Linked DNA regions of Homo sapiens: region 2 is linked to region 1. Evidence: fine-mapped expression QTL. Tissue or cell type: whole blood. Region 1 holds a variant in brackets; the other region holds the start of a gene. All regions are shown on one strand. Distances are from middle to middle.

Region 1 (2,766 bases):
ACAGAATGGGAGAAAATTTTTGCAATCTACTCATCTGACAAAGGGCTAATATCCAGAATCTACAAAGAACTCAAACAAATTTACAAGAAAAAAACAACCCCATCAACAAGTGGGCAAAGGATATGAACAGACACTTCTCAAAAGAAGACATCTATGCAGCCAAAAGACAGATGAAAAAATGCTCATCATCACTGGCCATTAAAGAAATGCAAATCAACACCACAATGAGATACCATCTCACACCAATTAGAATGGCAATCATTAAAAAGTCAGGAAACAACAGGTGCTGGAGAGGATGTGGAGAAATAGGAACACTTTTACACTGTTGGTGGGACTGTAAACTGGTTCAACCATTGTGGAAGACAGTGTGGCAATTCCTCAAGGATCTAGAACTAGAAATACCATTTGACCCAGCCATCCCATTACTGGGTATATGCCCAAAGGACTATAAATCATGCTGCTATAAAGACACATGCACACGTATGTTTATTGCGGCACTATTCACAATAGCAAAGACTTGGAACCAACCCAAATGTCCATCAGTGATAGACTGGATTAAAAAAATGTGGCACATATACACCACGGAATACTATGCAGCCATAAAAAAGGATGAGTTCATGTCCTTTATAGGGACATGGATGAAGCTGGAAATCATCATTCTCAGCAAACTATCACAAGGACAAAAAACCAAACACCACATGTTCCTACTCATAGGTGGGAATTGAACAATGAGAACACTTGGACACAGAGAGGGGAGCATCACACACCGGGGCCTGTCATGGGGTGCAGGGAGGTGGGAAGGAGCATTAGGAGATATACCTAATGTAAATGATGAGTTAATGGATGCAGCACACCAACATGGTACATGTGTACATATGTAACAAACCTGCATGTTGTGCATATGTACCCTAGAACGTAAAGTATAATAATAAAAAAAAGTTTGATTTTTTTATATACATGTTGCAATATCTGTTAATCAATCAGCTATTTCATGAGTTATTTAAATATACCCTCAATTGTTTGACATGAAATAAATAAACAAATATCATGAGTCTCCAGTTTATGTCTCCAGCCTTGACCTTTCTTCAGAGTTCCGGGTTCATTTGTTCTACTGCCTACCAGACATCTCCACTTGGATGTATAGTGGGCATTGTGCGC[G/A]TAACATACCTAACACTGAGTTCTGGTTCCCTGACTTCTCATCTAAACTATTCTTCCACCCAATCTCTTTCTTTTCAAAACAACTGGGCACTCTATCTGACCAGTTGTTCAAGCCAGAAATTTGGAAAGTAATACCTCCCTCTAACTTAAACAAAGAATCCATCAGTCACAAGGTCCTATCAATTTGACCTCTAAAATATATCTCAAGCCCATCTTATGTGAATCTTCTTTTGCACAGCTACTACCATTTCACAAGATAATTTCATCTGGGCTATTTAAGAATCTGCTACGTGGTCTCCCTTTGTCATTCCCCCACCTCATCAAATTTCTGCACAGAAGCTAAAGTGAACTTTCAAGATTCTAAATGAATCAGGCAACTACTCCTTTGCTTAAATCCTTTAAATAGTTTTCCATCGCTTTCTTGTAGTACAAACCACACTCAACGTGGCCTAAAAGGACCCTATGATCTGGCTTCTGACTACAGCACCAGCCTTAGCATTGGTCACTCCCCCTGGATCACTTGGCTTTTGTCATATTGGCCTTTCTTAATTTCCTTAAGTGCATCAAGGTTTCTTTTATCCTCAAGGTCTTTACCATATTATTACCTCTTCTCGGACACATAGCCTCTGACTTTTCACATAATTCCTCTTTCTCTTTCTTCCATCTCAGCTTAAAGATGTCCTCACAGAGGACTTTCTGCCCATCCAATTTAAAATAGGTCACTATAATATTATCTGCCAGACAATCCTGTTCATTATCTCCAGAACTCTTTAATTTATAATCATATATTTTTTCATTATATCTTTCTCACTAGAATTTGAGAGTAGAAAACATCCTTTGTTTTGCTCCTGTTGTTTACCACCATATCTCTAGCACTTTATATGCTACCTGGCAAGTAGCAGGTGCTCTGTATTTTTTAAATGGCCTTTACATGATTTTGGCTTTTTACATCATTAATGTCATAAGCTGGAAATGTATAGGTTTATGTTCATTAATTATTACATGCAAAACAATACGCTAAGTCCTTTGGCAGATATGAAACTGTATAAAAAGTGAGTCCTAATCTCAGTTTATAATTTACAAAGGAAGATATGATATACCTTAGATAATATAATGTAGTCAAATTAAATATCATATACAATGAGGAGACAAAAGACAGTTGGTTGCTGATAAATGGTGTAGGCATAAAGGCAGTTTCAAGACCCAAACTTACATAAAGAGCAGGGCAGGGAAAATGAAAGAACTCGTAAGGCATTGGGGAAAAAACCTGATGTGTATTGTGTGGTGTTGGTACTAAAAGGAAGTAAAATATGACCGGCATTTTTAGACCTGGTGACAGAGACACTGGTAATATCATGAAAAACAAAACATAAAGCAACCAGATGGAAGAGTTGGAATGGGGAAGAACAGGGTGGGGTGGAGGGGTGCATGGTGTTGGGGGAGATGGAGAGTGTGTTTAGATAGTGCTCGCTGGGTTCTAGAGATAAGTCTGAGGTATTGGTGTGACATTCATGTAGATACGTCTGGCAAGTAGTGTTTTTTGTTACACTTTTTAAAATTAGATTTTAAAAAATTACTAAGGTAAAGCATGTAAAACAATTAGAGATG
Region 2 (2,766 bases), 210 kb before region 1:
ATGATGATAATGATCTTGTTTAAAAAAAAAAAAAGCCTTCTGCTTTACTTCCCACTCTGCTCCTCTTCCCAGGGACTCACTTTCTTCCTGACTGCTTCCCCATTACAAGTACTCAGCTCCCTGTTTTATCACCCTGCTTAGAGCAGCCATTATCAGCCTTGGCTGAACATTGGAATTACCTGGGAACTTTTAAAAATCCGGAAGTCTGGGTCTCGCCTCCAGAGATTCCAGCTTAGTTGTCTTGAGCGTGGCCTGGACATTTGGGTTTTCAAAAGTTCCCTATGTAACTTTAATGTGCAACCACAATTGAGAATCACTAGCCTCCAGACTCTCTGTGTTATCAAAATTAATGAGCAGCTGATTTTAGAAATCTCAGTTATCAGGAGAAAAGGGTGAACCCCCCCAGGGCTCTTCTCCTTTTCCAGGTGACACTTCTTTATGGCAGTGCGTGAAAGTGAAGCCCTGCTGCTTGTAATCTCCCTCAAGGGAGTGCAAGATCCAGGCAAAGACAAGACTGCAGAGGCGCTACCTTGGGGGAAAGTAGGACCCTAAATACTTACACCTGGAGGCACTTACCTTTAATACTGAATTTGTCAGATGCAAATTTGTCTATGCAAACCAGGGCCTTATCTCTAGCTTCCCCTCAGGGGTTTTGGGAAGTGCGCTACTACTCTGAAACAGGGTTGTAAAGCGTCACCTGTGCTCTCCAGGGAACCCTCTGGAAAGGAGGTGGAAAAACAGAGGCTTCCACCCTTGCAACTCTAAGTGTGTTCCTTGGCCAGTGGGATCCATCACCTAGTATTTTCTTAGATATGTGGTATCTGGGGGCCAGTCCCACACCTATGCAATAAGAATCTCCATTTGAACAAGATGCCCAAGCGATTATATGCAAGTTTAAGATTGAGGAGGGCTGGTTTAACTCGAGGGTAACGAAAAGTACGAAATCGTACTTTACAGGAGAAGCTAGGCGGAGGGAGCCACTTATTCTTCCTCTTGCAGCTGGGTCTTTTTGTGGTGAGTGGCGAAGCGGCGAGGCTGGCAGGCCAGGGTGCTGGACTGGGTCAGGCGCGGCCCCGCCTCCCTCCTGGGTCCCTGCCCTGCGCGCCGTTGCTGTGGCAGCGCTGGACGCGGCTAGAGCTGGGGCTGCCGCGCCCTCCACCTCCTTCTCCAAAGGCCTCCCCGGACCCCTGGCTCGGGCCCAGCCTGCGACTCCGCCATGCCCTGGAGGAGGCGCAGGAACCGGGTGAGTGCCCTGGAGGGCGGCCGGGAGGAAGAGGCGCCCCCGGAGGCTGCCGCTGTGCCTCCGGCGCTGTTAACGTCCCCGCAGCAGACGGAGGCGGCGGCCGAGCGGATTCTGCTCCGGGGCATCTTCGAGATCGGGAGGGACAGTTGTGACGTGGTGCTGAGCGAGCGAGCACTGCGGTGGCGGCCCATTCAGCCCGAGCGCCCGGCGGGTGAGTGCCCGGCCCCAAGCGTCTTCGCCTCCCTCCGCGCTTCCTCCCTCTCCCCGGCCCAAGGCCTACACCCACGAGCTTTTGCTCCACCCTCCCCTTTTCTCGCCTCCCCTCCCCGTGCTCGCCTCACTGCCCGGACAGGTTACCGAGTCCCCAAGTCGCCGCCTCCTCCTTCCCAACTGGGAACTCACGCCTCTCGCCCCATCCCAGAACCCCCAGGGATTCTTTCGCTACCTAGCCTTTTCCCGCCTCCGAGACCTTCCCCGGGCAAACGTCACAAGCAGCTTTTGCTCAGAGTCTCAGCAGAAAATCTTGAGCCCCAAAGGGGAGGTAATTTACAAATGTGAGAAGGTCAACTACTCCTCCCCTCCAAGTTGAAAAAGTTTTAATCCATTAACTTTGATGGTACATTGAAACTATAAACATCTCACAGATTATGCCTACACAAGAGTTCTGAATCCAACTCTCATTTTGCTGACTTGAAAATGTAACTCCAGAGCTTTGGGAGTGTTTCTGGGTTTTTTTCTGCCCCTCACCTTCCTTGCCATTGTCTAGAATTAAGACTTCTTCAGGCTCGGTCTAGAAACTTTTGATTTTTAATATTGACCCTAGATTATTGGATCACAGTTTTGCGATGCTTAGTTACGTCAAGCGGTTTGCTTAACGTTTGCCTTTTATTGACTTAAAATTTTAGTTACCTAAAAAAGTTATAATGCTGTAGTTTACAACAAATACTTCGAGTCTATTTTCACGTCTTAGTCAAATAGCCTTATAGACTTAACAGATATTTTATAAAGACCATTTTGCAAGTCTTATAAGTAGACTTTCATATAGTCTTATTTCTAAGTCCAAACTCGAGAAATACTCCCCATTGTTGAATTAGCTTAGATGTGAGCGGTGAAAGACAGATGAAATGGGGGAGGAACTACATCAAGGTTACTCTACTTGCGAGGAGATGACTTGGGGGAGATGGAATTTGGTATTCAACCTCTTTTAGCTAAATACAAATTTATGAAATTAAAAAAATTGCCTTCCCCTGTTGGAAAACAAGACACAGTGTGGTATTTATGTTACAGAATAGACTCACTGTCTTAAAGTCTTGCTCAAAAGTCTAACAAAATGAAACCAACTAGCCAGGGATTCAGCACTGGTTGCGATTGTGAATTCTGCCTGTGCTGCATGTGCCATGCTCGCTCGCTTCACGAAAACAGTCTTTGACCTTAAAGTGTTTTCAGGTGTTTTAAAAACCAAGGTGTAGTATTTTCTTGAACCTTTTAAGTTAAAAGCTAGGGATATAGCTATGGAATTATTT

What was found. PIP is the estimated chance that this variant, and not a neighbour inherited with it, causes the effect. A credible set is the group of variants that fine-mapping cannot tell apart.
Region 2: CERKL starts here. The variant in region 1 is the best candidate, but not a certain one, in a credible set for the expression of CERKL in whole blood (INTERVAL, PIP 0.81).

The regions. Positions count from the first base shown.
Region 1 is chr2:181,446,912-181,449,677 of GRCh38, reverse strand. No RefSeq gene overlaps it. Among named protein-coding and RNA genes, the nearest start is that of ITGA4, 9.1 kb to the left of the region's middle. The variant G/A (reference allele first, on the strand shown) is at 1,159.
Region 2 is chr2:181,655,457-181,658,222 of GRCh38, reverse strand. It overlaps CERKL (CERK like autophagy regulator), which reads left to right and starts at 1,118. Exons shown (of 13, transcript NM_201548.5): 1 at 1,118-1,454. The coding sequence starts at 1,217. RefSeq lists silencers at 1,031-1,260, 1,391-1,480.